Linked DNA regions of Homo sapiens. The protein of the gene in region 2 interacts with the protein of the main gene of each other region in a pairwise test. Each region holds a gene or a part of one and is shown on either strand. Other genes may lie near its edges.

What was found. Proteins that work in one complex are often made in the same cells at the same time.
Region 1: the proteins of FMR1 (region 2) and G3BP1 interact in binary tests that used the Homo sapiens proteins (3 or more experiments, as listed by UniProt).
Region 3: the proteins of FMR1 (region 2) and FSD2 interact in binary tests that used the Homo sapiens proteins (3 or more experiments, as listed by UniProt).

Annotation. Positions count from the first base shown.
Region 1 is NC_000005.10:151,808,593-151,813,285, reverse strand, and holds the end of G3BP1 (ras GTPase-activating protein-binding protein 1), read right to left. Parts: 3' UTR 501-4,693; downstream 1-500. UniProt on the Homo sapiens protein: Protein involved in various processes, such as stress granule formation and innate immunity. Plays an essential role in stress granule formation.
Region 2 is NC_000023.11:147,906,515-147,916,509, reverse strand, and holds the start of FMR1 (fragile X messenger ribonucleoprotein 1), read right to left. Parts: upstream 4,592-9,995; 5' UTR 4,331-4,591; coding exon 4,280-4,330; intron 1-4,279.
Region 3 is NC_000015.10:82,796,070-82,804,430, forward strand, and holds part of FSD2 (fibronectin type III and SPRY domain-containing protein 2), read right to left. Parts: intron 6,570-8,361; exon of another isoform or gene 6,475-6,569; intron 298-6,474; exon of another isoform or gene 181-297; intron 1-180.

The DNA.
Region 1 (4,693 bases), on a different chromosome or scaffold from region 2:
CATCTGACAAACTGGATAAAACATGTCTTCAACTGCTTTGGACTTGAAATGGACAAAGTGAAACACAAAATGACCAAAACAAAAACCTAATACTTTTAAGCCCTCTTGATATTCCAAGACTGCCAAAGGCTATTCCACTCTCATTGTCTAGATCAGCATCACAGTAGACCTGTTGAATAAAAATCACCTTATCTAGAATTGATGCAAGTTACTGCAATGAATAACTTGTAGTACATTTAGGGTGAAGAGTGGCTGGTGCATGATTAGAATACTCAGTGACTGTTAACTTGGCAAGTGTTCAAACATACCACAGTGCTTCCAAATCACAAATCACTTGGTCCTCTCTCCCAGGACAGGCCACTTACGGAGACCTTATTCTCAAACTTGACTGGCCTAGGGAAGCTATAGAAAGAGACCAAATTACCTTGCAGCCATAGCTGTGAACACACTGGAGCCATACTTGAAAACTGGCGATGAACAGGACAACAGAGAGATACCAATTCATTGCTAAAACATTCCAAAATGAGTTTATTACAAAATAAATGCACAGTCACTGGAGGAAGGGGTTATTTTATTTATACACTCGATCTTAGATTTAGCAACCTTTCATTTTGACTCAGGATTCATTGACTAACTTAAGATGGGCTAGTTTCTGCCAACAGGGCAAGAGTGTGCAATCTCAGAGTCCCACCCAACCTGGCCAAAGCAAATGACTTCTGCATTAATTAGAAGTCATCCCCAAAGGACTTGCCCTTCATGTTTTCCCCATTTTGCCCGCTTAGATACTTGCACAAAAGATGCACCCTTTGTCTTTAAAGTTCCCTAGTTCGATGTTTAGGCAGAAGAGCAAATCCCAGGTTATTATTCTGCAAATAATTTTACATTTCCTTTATTCCAAAAATGTAGCTACCAACTTAAATGTATCATGACACACAAGGGGTAAAAGTTAGATACGAACTTCCAATAGCTAGGGCATGTTTCCTGAAACACTATCGTTCATTAGTACATTATTCAAGAAGTTACCTTAACCCCAAAGAATCTAAGAAGGGCACTGTGTAATTCTTCAGGTCACAATGCCAGCATGACTGTGGAGTCTGTTACAGGTAAGACAATCACAAGTTACAATGCTGTGATTCCAAATACTTTGGGGATGTAGAAAATGTGCTTAGCTGGGCAGCATGAATTAGCTCAGCAACATAGTGCTATGATGGAAGAGGTTCAAGATGATTCATACTTTCACGCCAGACCAGAAGTCACAAGCTCACATAGCGGCAACTCTGACAGCTAGCCAAAGTAGAAGATACTTCTAAAAAGCAGCCTGGGGACATTTTAATTAATTGGCCTGGAAAATCAGGTCAGAATTACAAAGTTCCTCATCCTTATGAAGAAGAAAATGTGATAGTATGTCTTTTATATGGAAATTTCTTTGTATATATGTATAAACTTGGTATGGCCTTAATGCTGCAGTTAAGGATTTGTCTGGCTACCACCTTAAGCAGCGTGTTAAGCAATCGCTTCCTTAATGTAACATTTTTACTTCTTACTGGACACTCAACCTTGAACAACTAATTCCCTTTTGCCCCTTACTCTTCCCCCCTTTTTTTGCATGAAGTCACAAAAGTTATGGCAGTTATTTTTTGGCTTGTAAAAAAAAAAAATCTATTTCTGCAGTTTGAAGATGGAATGTAAAATTTCTGTGAAACATGTATATAAAAGTATATTTATTGAACCATCCATATACACATATCCATGCTGATTCCAATGGAAAAAAATTAAAGTTTTCTGAAATTTTCTGTGGTTAACTCATAATTATTACTATTTAACCAACTTTATATGCAAGAACTTCCAATTACCCCAGGGAGAAACCTATGTATGACCTGGAAAACATCTCACTTTAGACAAGGCTTTATGTCGAGAAATGAGAATTCATTTGTTCATTCAAGAAGTATTTATTGATAGGTGCTAGGCAAGATACAAAGATGACTCAGACACAGATCCTGCCCATAAGGAGCTTACAGTCTAATAGGGGAGAGAGAACACATACATGGAATACATGGTCAGAACTATGTTTCAGTAAGATGAATCTAACATTGTGTATAAAGTAGGCTGGAGTAAGAGGTTAAGTGAAGCTGAGAGACTACTGAAATTACATAGGTGAGGAAGAAAGACGGGAAAGACTTGAGGTAGAACTGACAGGACTTAGCTGAAGACTGGATGTGGGGAATAACAAAAATGGAAGCAGATGACTCAGACTTTAGCATGGATGATGTCATGAACTGAAAGAAGGAACAAGTTTTTGCAAAGAAATGAAAATTTCATATAAAATTCTTCTGCATAGAAACAAACTGTCTGGGATATACTAGGCACAATCAGGAAGAAATGGCTAGTTACCCAGACCAATGGAAGCACCTCAAACTGGCCAGTGACTTCCTCCCCCTTATATATCCATCCCCCCAAATTTCCCAACAATTTTCTCCACTGAAATGGTATAGTGCCTAAAATTTATTAAATTCAAGGTCTATCTCCAGACATGGCCTCCCTTGGGAATGAAAACAGAAATATATTAAGTTATTCAACTCAGTAAGTTTCATCTAAAGACTCTAGTTATGAGTCACTGTACCTTCTGGTGGAATACAGAGATGAACTCCCTAGTCCTTATCTTCTAGGAGCTTACAGTCTAGTAAAGTAGTAAAACAGATAATGTAATTCTAATTCTAGACTGAAGGGGTAAGTTATGAACTACGAGAAAGACAAAGTGCTCTAGAACAGTTTCAGAAATGAAGGTTGGAACAGGACCTCAAACAAGAGGGAAAATGTGGAAAGTAGATGAGAATGGATTTGTTCCTCACTCCAAATTCTGGACAGATCAGCCCCAAAACGGGGCTACTCCCCATTCCTGTTGAAATTTTTTCTTAGGAAAAAATATAGCTCTTGTACTGATCTTTTAAAAAATTACTTACATGGCAAGAGATCAGAGGAAAGGGGGGATTGTAGATCTCAGTGGACCTTCGGGGAAGACAGAAGGCACTTGAAGCCAAGGAATCACAATGCCTGGCTTATCGGGAGGACCCTCAGTGTTTTAGCAAGGCTGGAGCATCACTTCCATGAAGAGTGGGAGAAATAACTCAAAAGTAATATTAAGACCTTGATATAAACATGGCATTGCCAGGCACTAAACAGGGTACACGCCTAAGACCAAATTGCTGCCCCCTAGGAGCTTACAGTTACAACAATACAAGGTGGAAAAAGCACCACAATGTACAGAATGCAAAATGCTGAAGTATTTAGGAGAAATTACAGCTGAGTTTCAGCTATTAACACATTAGGATACCCAATAGCTTTCTGACAGCTAGTAGTAAACCCATCCCTGAGGGGAGCACAAGTTAATGTCCTTAGACAACAAGCCCTGGTAGAGCTGGGCCATTAAAGACAGTTCTAAGAAAATTGAGAAAACAGGGGTATGAAAACTACAGAAGCAACTGGGTGAACATACAAAAAGTGATACCTTCCCTTTTTCTCCTGACAAACTTTAACAGGGCTGCCCTTCCTACAGTGAATCTAAACTGATGATCACCATATTACTTCTAAAAGCAGATTTGGGACTCTACTAACCAATTCTCTCTGATCCTTTGTAAAATGAAGGGGTTGTACAAGTCACTTCCTAGTCCTTTCCAGCACTAACATTCTATGATTCAAAGAATTCTGAGAGTTTCTCTGTTCCTTTTGGTAATAACCAAAATAGAAGAAAAAAATTTAAGTCTGATGCTTCTCACTCAAAAATATAATTATTTTCTATATAAATCACAAATGATCCCTATGCTATCAGCTAAATTTTACTTCCACCCTATCCTTCTTCAAAATCCATGAATTTTTTAAAACCACATGTCCTACAAGCTACCTTAGCATGCACCAAATGATTTTTCAAAAAGTTTTCTCATCTCCTACTCCCTTATACCAACTTCTTGGTATAATGTCATTTAAAGGGCCAAATCAGTGTACATCCAATCTTCATAACAAAATTTTAAAATTTAGGAGAACAACTGACATCAAAGCATGAGGACAGTGAGTAACCGAAGTGGTTTTTGTTGTTTTCTAATTTTTTGTTTTTTAGAGACAGGGTCTCACTCTGTCACCCAGGTTAGAGTGCAGTGGTATGATCATAACTCACTGCAGCCTCCAACTCCTGGGCTCAAGCAATCTCCTGCCTCAGCCTCCTGAGAGACGGAGACTATAGGAATGCGCCACCACATCTGGCTCACTTTTCAATTATCTGTAGAGACAGGGTCTTGCTATGTTGCCCAAGCTGGTCTCAAATTCCTGGCCTCGAGCAATCCTCTGGCCTCAGCCTCCCACAGCACTGGGATTACAGGCATGAGCCACCCCACCCCACCCCAAAGTGATTTTAACTTCAGCAATAGTTAAAACTGTTTCTATCCAGGTTAAACAGGATTTAATCTTCCATCTAATTACTATCAAAAATATAGGCAACCTTCCCCAAAAGTGGGCTTCTGAAAATAAATACTTGGTTCAGTAAATCAATAATTTCTGGTAAACATCCTTAATTTACTTAAAAAAATCCTAAGACACACTGTATGCACACTGTACCTTACAAATCTGGGACACTGGCCACATTTCAAAATACTACACTTAGGAATTTCTGTAATTGGCCAAGTCACATGATTTATTAAAGGAA
Region 2 (9,995 bases):
GGAAATGTGATAACAGTATGATTCAAACCCAAGGCTTCATATATAAAGCAAGTTATCATTTTGTCCCCACTCCCCCCGCCCCGTTGTATGGGGACACTAACAACATAAAAGAATAAAGAGAGACAATAAACCTCATCAACAGTCCTTCCAACCATACCACATGTCCAGGACTTCATATAGGCTACAAATTATGTGAAAAACACATTTAGCTTCACTCTGACCAAAAGACAACAGAGACATGTGCAAAGAAAACATTATTAAATTAGTTACTAATTTTTCTTGTGTGTATGTATTCTAACTTTTGAATACTTCAGTTTTATGAGCTCCCAATATAACAAAGACAAATTTCCTAGCAGGGTCAAAGATTTCTAACTTTATCTTTCCTTAACAGGCATCCACATGAAGAAGTACAGCGCCAAGGTTCAAGAATTAGTAACAAAAAAAGCTGGCACATAAACTGAATTATTTCATGATGGCTTTGTATTAACAATAAAAAATGGTAATATAACACTGTAACTATAGTTATAGGATGCTAAGGCAGTGTTATAGCACAAAATACAATCAAAGACCACCATGAAATTGAAAACTAAGCAGGAAATCAAACCAATTTCTTCAAGCTAAATTTCATCATTTCAGGAATTCAGAATCCTGACCCTTAATGGCCCTGACACTTGGTAGTAAGTCACTTACCTAACCTCTCTGTGCATCATTTAAAGAATGGGAATAACAACAATACATCAAATAAAGTATCAGAGAGAACAGTGCCTGGCACCTAGAAAGTACTCATCCCCTGTTAACTATTATTATAATCACGATCCCAATCTTCTCAGGAAGCACATTCCTATAGTGGGCAGAAATCAGAAACTCCAGTAATATACCACTGAATGTTGCATCTAATTAATAATTTGGAGGTTATGAGAATATTTAAGTATGGGGTTAGAAAATGCACAGTTCAAAAGGGGAAAAATGATGCAGCCACAAAGATCCTAAAAACTAAAAAGGGCAATCAGACTGTAGGAAGGAAAAAAAATGTGGTTGACCCCAATAATTCACTTCCTCGAAGTACAGAATAACACCTTTATGCAAAGTTAGCTCAGGAGACTTCAGAGAAACCACGAGTGCAAGTTTATTTACACTTTACCCAAGTTGATTTATAAACTTATAAATTTATAAACCTTATGCAAGTTTATTTGTAGTAAAACTGATTTTACTACATTTCAGCTATGTATCTGAAATGACATGTTAGACCACTAATATCTTCATTAAAAATATCCTTTTGATTGTACACTTTATCATATTTAGCTGCTAGCTGCCATAATACTACTAACCAAATGAAAGTCTGTCCTCAAACACTGAACTTAAAAAAGTATAATCTAACAACAAAATTACAATCTAGTATAATTACACCATATTACAACAAGGAATCAGAAATCAGAGGTTGTATTTTCAGAAAACAAAAAGGTTTGTATCTTATGTCTCCAACATGTGATTTTTCCATCTTTAGTAATTTTCATACTAGTACACAAAACCTACAAATCTTAGGATTCATTAGGGCATTCATATTGGAGTGATACGCATTCTACATTTAAAATGGAGTTAATTCATTACCATTCTCAACACATCAAAACTTCTAGTCCAAAGAAAACAAATTATGTGGGGCAGATGCACCTAGAATAAAGACTTTATTTCATCATTATTCATTTAGAAAATACTTTGTAAAGATTTTATGAGGTGTAAGTCAAAGTGCCTTCATATCTTAACACCTGCAGGGCACTATAAAGTGGTACACGTGACCAATTTTTTCTAAGTCAAACAAATACCTAAGCATAAAAGTAGTGGCTCTGGTGATCGCTAAATCTAACTTTTAAGTTTTTAAGAATAAACACCAGAAGATAGAGAGCTGTCCTTGCAAATATGGTGGTTATGTTAGGCAAATCAAAGTCTGAATTCCATTATACTCAAGTTGTTTGATTTGTTTAGTTTTAAAAGCTTTTCTATCAATTTGATGAACAAGGTTCCTATTTCTTTTTCCATAAATGTAACACTTCTCCACAGCAGTTCATTTTTCATTGGTTTTTATTTCACATCTTTCCTGTCCATCCCACTGGACAAGCAACTCAGTTTACTTTTGCTTTACTTTTAAAACTCACAGCAGTATTATAAGTCATATAAAAATTTCAAGCTTTTTTGTTACAGAAACTGTTCTTCCATCAGTGCAGACCATTTGAGATTTTCTTAGAAATCAAACTTAATTAAATAAACATAACAGCAATTTGTCTGACACACACTTGTTCAAGTATTAACATTTCTCCTCAGGGAACTAAGGGGCAACCAACCTATTCTTCATTCACCTTCAAGTTAAACAACTTCGTTACAAAACAAAACAAAAAAGGAGGGAATTAATAGCAAAAATAGAAGGCATTTCTTATATTCCAGTCAGTGTGCAAGCAAAATCACTGGAGCAAATCATAAGTTGCTGGAAGAGAACAATAAGTACTTCAAGGCCATAATGTGCTACTTGCCCTCTGTGATAAGCAAACTTTAGTGGCATCCAATCTAAGTTTATATCACAGGTCAATCAAAATCTTGCCTAACCATTAGCCGTTACTCACACATATATATGTATATGTATTATAGTTATTAGTGCCAGAAATCTAGTGACCAAAACCACTAATCTAGGACCGTGAACGATTCTACGCAAACTCACCAGAAGAAATTATGGATCAATAAAATCAATGAAATTAAAATTTTGACTGCAGAGTCAACTGAAACAATTTCATATTCATGAGACTGTTAAGAACATAAACGCGGGGTTACCTTTTGCCTCCTTTTACAGCAAAAGGCTTTATCTTTGTGCTCAAAGTATGGAACAGTTTACATACTTTACTCATTTATGAAATATACTGATCTCCAAATGTCTTCATAAAATTGGTAAACACAGAATAAAGTCAATTGTTTATTTTCCTATAGCCAAACGTGTCCTGTCTGAAACATTCAAGCCATTCTACAATACATTTAAGAATTGTGTTGGACACTGCTAATAGCTATTTTCCAGCCTTCCTTCCACACGCACCTTCTATTGCCAAAATACTGTAGTAAGGTGGGATATTATTGAAAGAGGTTATAGACATTCAAAAGGAAATGAGAATTTATAGATGAATTTATACAGCACCTACATACCAACAAACGCACTACTGCTACATCAAATTTGTAAATCTTCCTTTTAAAACTGAAAGGTGTTAGTTGATCTGCAATGGTGTAACTTTAAAAAGCACAGTAAACCCATGAATGCCTATATAAAGCCTCAACAATTCAGTCCACTGCAACACCACAAATTCAAAGGAAATGTGGTCAAGTTCTTAGGGGCACAAAAATATTTTCGCTCAGTTAAAAAAAAAATGCCCTAGTAATAATATACTCTCAGTTAATTACCTGAAGTTTCATGGCATATATTTAGGTCTTTGGAAACTTAAACACACACACACAATTTTTAAGTAGCAGCGCTGCTAATGGTTTTAGACGCTGAAGCATGTGCATTCCTGAATTTACCCCGTTTAACAAAAAGGGGGACGCGAATATTCACGATGATCAACTTCTTCAATGCACTGCTGGGCCATGTTAGGGTCTTCCTGAAACTTTTGGATCTAAAATCTCCTCCGAAATCCACAAAGAGAAGCCACTAAAAATCAGTTGCCATTGTGATTTGGTGCCGACTACCGCTTCTTACTACTCTTTCTTCACAGCCCTCGCCCAGAACAGTGGAGCTCTCCGAAGTCCCAATGCTAGACCGGAAAAGAGAAGCCAAAGGAGACCTGAAGCCCTCTTGGCGCTGCAGGAGGCGGCCCGGCTGAAGCGCCCCCCGCTCCTCCACAACTACCCACACGACAGGCCCGGATCCCGCTGGGAGATGATGTTTAGGAAAGGGGGAATAAGCCATCGCCGTCACTTAGCGCCGATTTCGGCCCTTCCCGCCCGGCTCTAGTACCTGCCGCCGGCCCTCGCCCATCCCCAGCTCACCCCGGCGGGGCTCGGCGCCGAAAGAGAACCCTCTCCTCGCTGGTCTCTCATTTCGATAGGCGCTAGGGCCTCTCGGAGTCGGAGAGGGGCTTCCAACAGGCCCCAAGTCCAGTCCTTCCCTCCCAACAACATCCCGCCGAGCGTGCCCTGGCACCCAGGCGCGGTGCTCGGGAAGAGGGCCCCGGGCCTGCCTCCCGCCGACACCAAGAAGAAAAGGGAGGGAAGGAAGGGCGAAGATGGGGCCTGCCCTAGAGCCAAGTACCTTGTAGAAAGCGCCATTGGAGCCCCGCACTTCCACCACCAGCTCCTCCATCTTCTCTTCAGCCCTGCTAGCGCCGGGAGCCCGCCCCCGAGAGGTGGGCTGCGGGCGCTCGAGGCCCAGCCGCCGCCGCCGCCGCCGCCGCCGCCGCCTCCGCCGCCGCCGCCGCCGCCGCCGCCGCCGCGCTGCCGCACGCCCCCTGGCAGCGGCGCCTCCGTCACCGCCGCCGCCCGCGCTCGCCGTCGGCCCGCCGCCCGCTCAGAGGCGGCCCTCCACCGGAAGTGAAACCGAAACGGAGCTGAGCGCCTGACTGAGGCCGAACCCCCGGCCCGCTGCGGGTGTAAACACTGAAACCACGTCACGTGATCAACGCTGTTCCCTCCCCCCGCGGGCTCAGCCCCTCGGCCCCGCCCTCTCTCTTCAAGTGGCCTGGGAGCGCGCGCATGCGCGCTGCTGGGAACCGGCCGGGGTGCCGGGTCGAAAGACAGACGCGCGGGCCGGGCGTGCGCGGGCTTGGTGGAGGGCGGGAAGGCTGAAGGGCGGTGACAGGTCGCACTGCCTCGCGAGGGCCAGAACGCCCATTTCTGCAGAGGTGCACTCAGTGGCGTGGGAAATCAAATGCATCCGGTTATCCCAGTTCGGCCTCTCTGGGATTCCGCGGGAGGGGGTGTCTGGTCTGGTTTGGTTTGGTTTGGTTTGGTTTGGTTTGGTCCGGTTCAAAGTAGCGCAGTCTGACTGAGCGGGAGGTGGAGTGGAAGGCGAGAATAGGGGTGAAGGATTAGACAGAAGAAGACTTTGAACTAGGAACAGTGGCAACCAGGGTGACCCAGGCTTTTGTGACCCGTAGAGGCAGAAGGTGAGGCGTCTACGCCCTCTCTCACCAGATTTTGGGCGGCCCTGTGGAGACACCCTGTGCCCTTTAAGGGACATGGATTGAGTCGGGATCTCAAAATGTGAGCCTTTCCTCAGACCCAGCTTTGACCCACGTACTCGCCTTTCCTCAACTCATTTTCATACTTTCACTTGACTATATATTTTTTAAAAATTGTGTTAAGCACTTGAGGTTCATTTCTGCCCCTACTGTATGTGCACCCTGTGCCAGAGGGTGGGGTGAACACGTGTGTAGCAGTCATGCGTCCTGTCCACAGGGGCCGATGCACCTCCTTGCAACCCTTTACATTCCACTGTGAAACAAACCTCAACTTTTTCTTATTCCTGTTTTTACACCGTGCTTATAGCTGCCTTAATCCATGTTCCCTTCGGGATGCTGGTATCCAACTGAGAAGTTGACGGAGCATCTATCGTGTGCCAGACACTGTGCTAAGTGCTAACGAGAAATCGGTGAGCAAAACAGAAAAGAAAAAAAAAGAAGAAACGACTGCCAGCATTGAACTTAGTACCTAGCAAAGTAGGTGGACATAAATCAAATTGTCAGACAAGTAAATGAGTAGTTGCAGCTGTGATAAGGGGTATGAAGAATAGGCGCTTCCATGATGGCGGAACATGACCTAGTCTGGGGTGGAGAAGGGGAGATGATTCCAGCTGGAATATGGCAGGTGAGAGTTAACTAATAGCACTGAGTTGGCAGAGGCAGGATGACCTGCCCCAGGCAGGTGCCCCAGAATGAGAGGATGTTGCTGCTGGTGGAACTCCAGCTTTAAAGCGGTGGATCTAGGGCCACATTCCTCAAGGCCATAGCAAACAGGAAAGACCTTTTGGACTAGGGTCTTTGGAGTAGTCACATGAGGCCAAGAACCCAATAGGGCTGAAAGAGAATCTCATCATAGGCTGAATGGGAGCAGAGCATTAGCTGCAACTCCAATGTATTATAGTAAAAGGGGACACATTGATTAGAATGATTATACCCCTCCAAGTGTAAGCTGTTGTTCAATTTACCCAGGGCTTAAAAATATGTCAACTCTTCACAACCATTTTTACTACAAGCCACACTCAACCTGTGTTGTTCCCTGAACCTGTGATGCACTTTCATCCGTTCATGTCTCTACACATCCTTCCTGGGCCCCATAGAGGCCCTGCACCTTAAGGTTTTCAGCTGGATTCCTATTAGCTAGTTATTTTATCTCAGGTACAGAGAGTTAACTTTGCTCCTCAATTTTCAGCACATTGTCATATCAGTCCCTACAGGGTCCTTGTTTACATTATTTTATAGTGTTTATATTATTTTTTCCTCATCTTTCTCGATCCCCACTCTCATTCTTCTAGACACAAGCTGCAATATGTTCGATAGAGATCCTTGATAATTTAACACAGATAATGTTTTGTTTATGCCTCTTGCATTTACAGAGATGGTATTGGACTGTAAATCTCTATTTCCCACTGTTTTACTCAACAGTCTGTTTTTGAGCTATACCCACATTGCTGTGTGTACACCTAGTTTGCTACCGAGTATGCCAGAAATTTTATTCATACATATCCCTACTGATCGGGCATCTAGGTTACTGCCAACTCCCTGAAGTCATACTGTGGTGAAAACCCTTGTGAATGTCTTTACAAACCTTTGCCAGAACTTATTTTGTGCTCTTGTAGAACTTTGTGCATACCCTCTGCTTCCTCATTACACTGCTTGGCATATAGCAGAGACTCAACAAATGTTGAATACCTCTACTATGATGGTTAGTGTACTAGAATAATTTATTTATATTTCTGTTTTCCTTATTGGATTATTAGTACCTTCCAGACAGGGCAAATGTCTTTTCTATCTTTGTGTCCCTGGCACATTAAAAGTGGTTGATTTCAAGGTATGTTCAATGAATGAATAAATACTTATCTTCACTGCCAGTACATACTGCAACTTAGTCTTCCCCACTTGACTCTGAGTCTCAGCCTTACTCTGATCTCTAGCTTTTGATATTTCCCCTTTCAAGATAGCTTACCTGAATTCAGACACTGAGCTCAGGCCTGATCATGAGCCTGCTCTTCCAAAGTCCTCTCTCTCTCTCTCTCTTTCTCTCCTGTCTCTCGTTACAGGCAGCTCCTGCCTTCCAGTTCGTTGCTCAAGCCTAAAACTGAGACATTTTGACCCTCTTTCACACATCAGATCCATCAGCAAATCATTGTAGAATCCAGACTCTGTTTCTGATCATTTGCTCAGCTAAAACCATAGTCCAAGCTTCCATTCTCTTACCTGCATTATGGCAGCAACTTCTTCGCTGGTATCCCTGCAGTCACTGTCCACTGTTGTACCCTCTCTGACAGTTCTCAGCACAGAAGACAGAATGACCCTGTTGAGGTGTCAATCAAGTCACTCTGCCACTCACAATCCCCCAGTGACTCCCTACATCTCTCAGAGTAAAAGCCAGAGTCATTATTTATTCTGGCTTCAGTGCCCTATATACTCTGACTTCTGTTATCTCCGCTATCTCACCTTCTACTTTCCCCCTTCACTTCATTCCAGTGCATGAAATCTATCTAGTTCACCTAGATTTTCTCCTATGTTATCTTTCAGAAGTTTTACAGTTTTGTGTTTTGCATTTAGGTCTATGATCCATTTTGAGTAAATTTTTTTCAAAAGATATAAGGTCTGTATCTAGATTATTTTTTGCATATGAATGTCCAGTTATTCCAGCACTGTTTATTGAAAAGGCCATTGTTTCTCATTCCAGCCATAATGTTTTCTTTGTTGTTTCTTGAAAATAGCAGACAGGTTCTGTCTCTCTCCCCTCACTAGAGTGTAAGCTCAGTGAGAACAAAGATTTCCATTTGTTTTATTCACTGCTTGTCCCCAGTGCCTACCACAGTGTCTGGAACATAGTGAATGTTTACTAAATATTACATGAATGAACGAATATGTGTTGAGGACCCGGCCGAGGTTGAGTCAGCTCTCATGCCTATATTTATCTGATATTGGAATGATGCTTCAGTGTTTCTAGCCCTGCCTTGGCCCTTGGTTTCCATTAAATTGCTGCCTGTTGTCTTTGCATTGATTTATTCTGTGCTATTTCCTGCTCCTTCGCAATTTGAGCCCTCTGAGTCTTTTCCATGGCTCAAACCCAGCTGAAATGCCTTCTGCCCTTTCCGACTCTCAAATCTTATGTACCCTTCAGGACCCAGCTAAAGTCACACTTCTTTCTTGACACTTTCTCTGACAATTTCCTTTAACCATGACCTCTCATTCAAATGAGATATTAGAAAAAGAATAATTAATTGGCTTTATTTTTTAGAACAGTTTTACATTTATGGAAAAATTAAGCAGATAGTGGAGAGAGTTTCTATGTACTTCCTAATCTCCCTCCTCCCCTACAGTTCCTCCTGTTATTAACATCTTGCATTCGCATTGTACATTTATTACAACTGATGCATTATTACTAACTAAAGTCTATAGTTTACATTAAGATTCACTCTTTGTGTTGCATAGCTCTGTGGGTTTTGAAAAAAGCATAACATATCCACCATTACAGTGTCAGCAGAACAATTACACTGCATTAAAAAATTCCTTGTGTTCCACCTATTCATCTGGTCTACCTGCAACCAACCCTTGGCAATCACTGATGTTTTTACTTTCTGCAGAATTTTGCCTTTTCCGTAATGTCATAGAGTTGGAATCATATAGTATGTAGTCTTTTCATACTGCTTTTTTTTTTTTACTTAGCAATATACATTTAACATTCCTCTGTGTCTTTTCATGGCTTGATAGTTTATTTTCTTTTATTGTGCACAGTATTCCACTGTATGTATATACCATGGTTTGTTTATCCATTTATTTATTGAAAGACATCTTGGTTGCTTTCAGTCTTTTAAAATTATGAATAAGGCTCCTGTAAACTTTCTTGTACAGATTTTTGTATGGACATAAGTTTTCAACTCATTTAGGTAAATACCAAGGAGCATGATTGCTGGATCATATGGTAAGACTATGTTTTGCTTTATCAAAAATTACCAGATGATCTTCCAAAGTGGCTGTAACAGTTTGCATTTTCACCAGCAATGAGTGAGACTTCCTGTTACTCCACATCCTTGCCAACATTTGGTGTTGCCAGTATTTTGAATTTTGGGTATTTTAATAGGTGCATAGTAGAATCTTATTGTTTTAGTTTGCAATTTCCTAATGACATATGGCATTGGGCATCTTATGCTTGTTTGTCACGTATGTATCTTCTTTGATAAGGTGTCTGCTCAGATCTGTTACCCATTGGGTTTTTTTTATTGATGATTTTTCAGTGTTCTTTATATATTTTAGATATCAGCCCTTTATCAGATTATGTATTTTGCAGATATTTTCTCCCAGACAGTGGCTTGTCTTTTCATTCATTTAACAATGTCTTTCATTGAGCAGACATTTGTAATGAAAAAATTTCGACTGTTCAGTTTTTTTCAGGGATCGTGCTTTTAGCATTGTACCCAAAAAGTCATCACCAAACACAAGTTCACCTAGATTTTCTCCTATGTTATCTTCCAGAAGTTTTACAGTTTTGTGTTTTGCATTTAGGTCTATGATCCATTTTGAGTAAATTTTTGTGAAAGATATAAGGTCTGTGTCTAGATTGTTTTTTGCATATGAATGTCCAGTTATTCCAGCACCGTTTGTTGAAAAGACCATTGTTTCTCCATTGAATTATTTGCTCCTTTGTCAATGATCAGTTGACTGTATTTGTATGGATCTAATTCTGGCATCTTTATTTTGTTCCATTTATCTACAGTTGGCCCTCTGTATCCATGGGTTCTGCATCAACAGATTCAACCAATGACAGATCAAAAATAT
Region 3 (8,361 bases), on a different chromosome or scaffold from region 2:
TCTGCTCACTCAACCACCGCCTTCTGGTTTCAAGTGATTCTCCTGACTCAGCCTCCCAAGTAGCTGGGATTACAGGCATCCGCAACCACATCCAGCTAATTTTTGTATTTTTTAGTAGAGACGGGGTTTCACCATGTTGTCCAGGCTGGTCTCAAACTCCTGACTTTGTGATCCACCCACCTTGGCCTCCCAAAGTGCTGGGATTAGAGGCGTGAGCCACTGCGCCCGGGAGAAGTTGTGATTTCAACCCACATCATGGCAAACGGAATTGTCCTGGCCAGAGCTGGTCCCCAGTGGCTGTAAAAGCAAGAAAAACATATGGAAACACAGGTGAACCAAGGTTGGCTGGCAGGTGAGCTGAAGAAGTTGGCAGCATTGCTGCGGGCATAAGACGTATTAGGAGAACCAACGGAAAGTGGTCACCAGGCCTCATGAGAGACTCTGAGCCACAATCACCCAGACGAACTGTTCTCAGGTTCTTGACCCTCAGAAACGATTCAAGAGAATAAATATTTGTTGTTTTAAGCTGTCAAGTTTTGAAATAATTTGTTATGCCACAATAGATGACTAGTTCATTGTCCCAGACTAAAAATAAACTTTCCACCCAGCTTTCTCTGCTAGCTGCTATTCTCTCTTTCTCCCCTTTCCCTCTCCAGACTCCATCAAAGGGTGGCATTTCCACCATCACTCTTCAGGCTATGGAATCTGTATGCGAAGACTTTCCAAGGGGTACATGGTATAGATAGCTTCAGGAGGATCAGCTCCCAGATGCTCAACTTTATATTTAATCTTTCCCAGAGCTGCTCTGCCTGGGAAGGAACTAGCATTTGAGGCTTCATGTAGATTCTTTTTTCACAATAGTCCTTTTTCTCTTTATTACAAAAGTAAAACTATACCTCTCACTTATCCTGAATATTTCATTGCACTGTAAGATTTCATTGCTTGGTAATTAAAAAAAAAAAAAAAAAAAAACACCTCCAGGGGACTAAATGGAAGGACAATTTGAAGTATTGCTATCAATGGTGGAGGGTGAATGACATTAATGAATGCATAAGAAAAAATTTGTTTTCAAGCTAAGTGGTTTCCAGTTCTTTGCTTTCAATAAAGTTGAAGGAGGATCTAATCAAATTGTCAGCTAATATATGATTAAAAATAATTTTTCATGATAGATCACTATGTACTTTTTGAAACACATTTCAGAAAGAGTTCAAAAATGTGAGTGACATTGCTATAATAAAACACTTTCATTTCCATCAATGTTTGATTACGTAGCTAAGCAAGGTTGCTCTGTTCTTACATCAACAAAATGAAAAGCGGAAAGACAATTGACCCTAATTCCTGTTGCAGTCTAAAATATGTAATTTTCATCAATGGATACACAAATAAACTTTTTTTAAAAAAGCTCCATCTACCTCATTAAGAGATGCATTTCCATTTTATTTTTCATTTAACAATTATTGGCCAGGCGTGGTGGCTCACGCCTGTAATCCCAACACTTTGGGAGGCCGAGGCGGGCAGATCATGAGGTCAGGAGATCGAAACCGTCCTGGCTAACACGGTGAAACCCCATCTCTACTAAAAATACAAAAAATTAGCCGGGCGTGGTGGCGGGCGCCTGTAGTCCCAGCTACTTGGGAGGCTGAGGCAGGAGAATGGCGTGAACCTGGGAGGCGGAGGTTGCAGTGAGCCAAGATCACGCCACTGCACTCCAGCCTGGGCGACAGAGCGAGACTCCATCTCAAAAATAACAATAATAATTATTATTATTTACCAAAATTTGTAATATGTTTATGTTATTTTGCTTACATGTGATTAAAAGTTGTATTGGTAACTTCATCCAAAAGAAAAAAAGAGTTTAATATTCAGAGATGTATGGTCCCAGGAGAACAAGAGAAAATCTTTCATCTCAAGTTATACATCTGTATTTTTGTAGAGAAGTATCATAGATGACCAACAAAAGACTTTCCAAGCACAGAAAAATATTACAGGTCAGGTACAGTGGCTGACACCCGTTATCCAAGCACTTTGGGAGGCAAAGGTGGGAGGACCACTTGAGCTTAGGAGTTCGAGACCAGCCTGGGCAACAAAAAGAAACCTCACCTCTATTTAAAAATCAAAAAACAAAACTAGCCCAGCGTGGTGGTGTGTGCCTGCAGTCCCAGCTACTCGGGATGCTAAGGTGGGAGGATCACTTTAGCTTGGAAGATTGAGGCTGCAGTGAGCTATTATCTTGCCACTGCACTCCAGCCTGGGTGACAGAGCAAGACCCTGTCAGAAGATAGAAAGGAAGAAAGAACGAAAGGAAGAAAATTCATGTTTTAAGTGCACAATTCAATGATTTTTAGTAAATTCCCCAAATTGTGCAGCCATCATCACAATCCAGTTCCTAATGCCTACCCCCATTAAAAAATTGTGGTAAATCTAATGTCTTTTTTTAAAAAAACTAATATTATTAAACTATTTTAACATGACATATATATATAATGTTTTGAGAAAAATAAGCAAAATATTTTAAGATATGGTTTAGCACTGTTTTTTCCTTATCCATCACTTTTATGATCCAGTTTTCCTTAACTTCCATTTATGTGATCAAAGTTAGCAGCCAGCTGTTTGTCTTCCCTATTTGTTCCACAGTTGTACACAGAAAACAGAAGTCAACAAGTTCGTCGGCTTCCCCTATCAGCTCTGTTTAACTTTCTGCAGTGATAGACTGTCACTTCTGCTGATAGACTGTCCTTTTAATAGCCACTTCCCAAACTATATTTTTAAAAAGGCATTAAGTTTTCTTTCCACTATCTCCACTGTTTTGTTTTTTTTTTTTTTTTTGAGACAGGGTCTTGCTCTGTTGCCCAGGTTGGAGCACAGTGGTGAAATCTCAGCTCACTGCAGCCTTGACCTTCTGGGCTCAAACAATCCTCCCACCTCAGCCTCCTGAGCAGATGGGATCACAGGCATGCACCACCACGCCTGGCTAATTTTTGTAATTTTTGTAGAGACACGGTCTCACTATGTTGCCCAGGCTGGTCTCAAACTCCTGCTTAAGCAATCCTCCCGCCTTGGTCTCCCAAAATGTTGGGATTACAGGTGTGAGCCAATGCGCCTGGCCTATCTCCACTTTTGATTGCCCTTTTAATATAACATTTTCTCATGGCCTAATTTGGAAATTCATGGACCCTGTCTGGTGCTCTCCTGACTGCTCCATGCCATTCAATCCTATTGACCCTTCTGTGTCCCCCGGCTCAGCTGGGATTTCCCCTAGGCCACTGACTGCTGAAATCTCTGCCAAGTTCCTCCCCTTGGCTGCTCTTTATATGCAGGCATCCCCTTAACCTCCATTCTAGGCCCTCTTCCCACTCTCCACTTGCTCTAGGTGATCTCATCCAGTCTCACAGCTTCTATGTCCCCGTCTTTTCTGAGGGCTCCAAATCCATGTCTCTGGCTCTAACCTGTGCCCCATGCAGAGGCAGAGGCTCAGAGGTGCAGCTGCTGTCTTGAGCAGCCCCCTCCAGCAGCCCCCTCAAACTCAGCACTGCCAGATGGAGCTCATTGCCTCTCTCTTTCCCCAACTCACCATGTGGTGTGACGTCACCTCCACGGCAGCCCCTGCATGCTGCCTGTTAGTGGGGTGTCCTCCCACCAGCCCTGCCAGAACTCCTCCTCTCAATAAGGTTTCTCAAACTTTCCTGCACACACGTCGCCTTGGGGTTCTGGTTAAACGTAGAGTCAGAAAGTCTAGAGTGAGGTCTGGAAAACTGCATTTCTAAATCTCTAAATGGTGCCTATTCTGCTGGTCTACCTTGTAAGGTAGAAGATGCCTGGATGCCCAGCTGGCCCGTGAGAGGTTGGGACAGTCTTCCAGAAAACCCACCTTCTTCAGCCTCTCTACACTCTGGCCATGAATGTCTGTGATGTCCTGAACTGACTGCCTGCCCTTCCCTCTGCCCTCCCTGGACATTCCTGCTGTAAGCCTCCAGTTTCATCCCTCTTCCTCAGCCTTTATTTGTGGAGGCCAAGTTACCCATGGCCTCGGGAAGAAGAACTCTGCCCTGCGTCCTCAGAGAAGAACTCTGTCTCTGGTCAGAGATGACACCTTGCCCTTATGGCCTGGACCTCCCCCTTCCTTCCTGGGGACAACCAGCCAGGCTCTGCTCACTGCCTGCCCCAGTGCCCTCCAAGTTTTGTCCTGCAAGCACAGGAAAAGGCTAGGAGTAATGATGAGGAAAGCAGAGGTGCCAACACAGTTCTACATCTGGCCCATTTAGGAAGGATTTGAGACAGGCAGGCTAGCTAGGTTCCTATGTTAAGATGGTCTGGAGGAAAATGATAAAAGCCCCTCAGTCGGCCCCACACAGTGGCTCACACCTGTAATCTCAGCACTTTAGGAGGCTGAGGTGGGCAGATCACCTGAGGTCAGGAGTTCAAGACCAGCCTGGCCAACATGGTGAAACCCCGTCTCTACTAAAAATACAAAAATTAGCTGGGCGTCGTGGTGGGTGCCTGTAATCCCAGCTACTCGGGAGGCTGAGGCATGAGAATCGCTTGAACCTGGAAGGCAAACGTTGCAGCGAGCCAAGATCATGCCACTGCACTCCAGCCTGGGGGATAGAGCGAGATTCTGTCTCAAAAAAAAAAAAAAAAAAAAAAGCCCCTCAGTCAGGCTCTTGCTTATCTAACTCCCAGCCAATCAGTAACAGAAGACCCAAGAAGCTATAACTGCTATAACCATAAGCTCCTATTTCGGGGGTCTAGGGACTTCCTTGGAGACCCAAATGTGCAGTTACATTTAAACTCCAACCTATAGTTACCCCTTCTTCATTTTAATGCTAAAAATCACCCCTGGGGTGGTGATTTAAAATGCTAATGCTACATATAATATATGAAGAAGCATGTTGAGCCACTGTGCAAGCACTAGAAAAACTCTCCTACACCTGCCCCAATGTAACCCTTCCCCATAGAAAGCCTTTATAAAACTAACCCACACACTACTGCCCTCAAGGAGCAGCCCATTCTTTTCTTCTTCAGTGCCAGCTTCCTTGTGCACAAGCTAAAATAAACTTTCTCTATGCTGCTGTGTCTGGTGATCTCTCTTGATTCCTATCCTGGGAGATTACAAGAACCCAGGATGCTGGAAACATTTTGATCCAAGAATAGGAGGTTCTGGATCACAGTGATGGAACCATGTCCTGCTCTTAACCCAGAGGGGCCCTTAGTCATTTCATCTGGTGCTCCGTACCAACTATCACTCCCCCAGTTAATCGTGGCTACACCCTGCCTTCGAAATCCCTCACATTTCCCTCCATGGGCTCACCCTGGCTCTTTCTGACAGCAAGACAAAAACACAAGAACCAACCAGCCTTCTCTGATGGTAGACGGGTTGGGGAGGTGGGATGTGGAAGTGTGACTACCTGGACTCAGCCCTGGTGAGCCCCTGGGGACCTTCTCTCTTCTCCTCTTCACTCTGAAGTGTCCACGGGATGCTGTTTTTCTAGGTACTGTATCAGCACCACACAGAGAGGTCGACTTCCAGCAGTCATTAGGTGACAAAGATGCTGCTATCCTAACCCAATGCCATGTATGTTATTGGTTTCAGAGATCTGGATCCTCATAAGGAAACCTTACTCCTGAGACTCTAAGACTTGGGAACATCACTCTTGGAGTTCTCCCACTCTCCAATGCTCCAAAACTCTTCACATGGAAGATAGTGGTAAATATCACTTCAGTAACACCTGCTGAGGCTGAGATACCATGACCATGCAGGATTAAAGCACACAAGGCACCAGCTCCACCATGTCTTGGTCCATGCCACCTGGGACCACAAACAGGATCAGGTCCACCCCTAGATGGAGAGAAGGATGAGTGGAGGTAGGTTTCCAGAGGCAGCATCGCAAAGCCAGTGGTTTCCAGGCACCAGGGCCAGTGTTTTGCCTCCACAGCCAGTGTTTTGCCTTCATATGATTTATGAAGACTCCAGAATTGAGTTTTCTTTATGGGGAGGTTACTACTAAGAAACCTGTCTACCATTAGGCTCTGGCTGGGGCAGTCCTGGCTCATCCTCACTAATGCAGCCTGTACACAGGGCTGGAGAAGTGTGGCTTCAAGTGAACTAGGGCACAGCTTCTTCTCACACTGAATCTGCATCCCAGCAAAACCAGTGCTGAGCTGGACCAGCAAGTCTCCCCCTCCATACATACCAGACCCAAGGGATTGCTAGCTCCTCCTGGGTATCATGCACATTGCCTGCACTTTAGCCCATGTTTCCCTCCGATGGTTCCCAAGGTCAAAGTTCCCTTCCAGCTATGGAAACACCACTTTGCCTCCTCTCTCATCCTGAATCCCTTGTTGTAGTGGATGATTCTCAACAAAGTAATCAGAGCCTTCTGCCCTGAGAGGCCCTGAATCCTGCCTTCACACTCCTGTATGTCAGATTGCCCAGCTAATCAGAATTACCCACATTGCATAGAAATAATGTCTTACCATTAACAGCTGGGTTGAGCTCTTACTTGGCATCATGGGGGAGGAAGAGTAGGAGAATGAAGCTGAGCACAAGTACCTCTGGAAATAGAACCTGAGAGGATGGGAGGGTCATGCTTCTTCTCTATGGGCCTCTTATCAGCCAGCAACAGCAGCAGCAGGTCTCCCCAGCTTAGGAGCAGTTCCTCATTTCTACTCCACCAGGTCTCCTGGTTGCTGCCTCTGCTCCTGGGGCGTTATAGATTCCACCTGGTCATGGCAGAGTTAGTGTGTTATGGGGCAACATGGAATGACCTGGAAAGTCTGCACCCATGCAGAGGTCATCTGGTGAAGCCCTAGGTCCTTCTGTGACCCTGGCTAACCTTACCACATGCATGGTCTGTGGTGTTGGGCATCATTCATTGCCCCAGCTCTGAATGTTCATGGGGTTGGTGAGGTGTGAATTCAAGAGAACAGGATTGGGCTAGGCGCTGGGGGTACAATGGATGAGACACAGTTGCTGGTGTCAAGGAGGCTCCAGACAAGTGACTAAGGGATTATTACCCCATCTGGGGCTATGCACAACTTCTCAGAGACGCTGCTTTCCCTCTTTCCTGGGACCCCAGAGTACTTCTCCTTCCTAAAGCACAGAGTCTGTGCCAAAATCCCACTATTTCCCTCTGTGGCTCGAAATCTTGCTTGAAACCCTCCTGTCTCTACAGTCTGCTGACTGCGCGCACCATGGTCCTTCCTCAGGGGTGTCCCTGCCCAGGATAGCAGCATAGCTTATACAGCATATGTTGCTTTGTTCAGGCAGAAGTGGTACATCTGCACATCGTGCATTCTGAGGGCTCCATTACTGGCAAGTCCCAACTCTCCTGGGCACCAGGGATCCCCCACCCCATGCCATAGCTCTATACTCCCCAAGCAGCCCCACCTTCCCTAGCGGTAACCCTCTGTTCCTTCTGGCCGCGCTCAGGGTCTTCCATGTGAGACTCACCCTAGGCCCTGGCTCAGACTGTCCTGCCTGCTGAGAGCTCCCACTCTTCCCTATCTCACCACTGCTTCTTAAACCCCATACTCATCCAACATGGCCCTCCATGAAGTCCACTGCATTGCTACTATCCATGAATGAGAGCATGACATCCACCCCCTCCAGCACCAAACCAGAGACCAGAAGCTCATCCTTGACACCCCCAATCTAATTAATAACTAATTCATGCTGATTCTGACTCTACCTCTTGAATCTCTAAGTAATATCCCTTTTCCTGTCCCCTCTCCCTGCTCCCCAAGATCACTGCCCTCTGGATTCAGAGAGTCCTGTGTTTGCATTGTTTCTGCCACATCCTGGAAGTATGACTTCAGGAAAATCATCTCTCTAGGCCTAACTTTAATGGACTATAAAACAGCTCTATTAACAGTGTCTACCTCATAAGGTTGGCATTTAGATGAAATAACATAATGTACTTTATGCATAGTACATAGCTTAAAGTAAGTCCTCAGTAAGTGTTAGCTGCTGTTATTGTTGTTGTTCTTACTATCATTATCATGATTCCTACCTTAGTATCTCCCACCTGGGCTAGAAGCCTTCTACCTAGTCACTCATGGAGAGTGACCACAGCAGTGTGGAATCATCCATGGCTACTGTGGGAATATTTGTCCCTTGAAAACAGCCGATGATGAAAGAAGGCACCAAGCAGAACAGCCTCATAACCACGCACAGACATCAGCTATGAGATCATTCCTCTCCCAGGGGGCCCAGGCAGAGATATGGTATTCTAGGGATGGAGGTCCCTTGGAGAGCATCTAATTCAATTTCCTGATTTTATTCAGCAGGTCATGGATGTTTAAAAAAAATTCCTGATTTTAGGATGGCAAAACTGAGATCTTGTGAGGATAAAGGACTTGCTT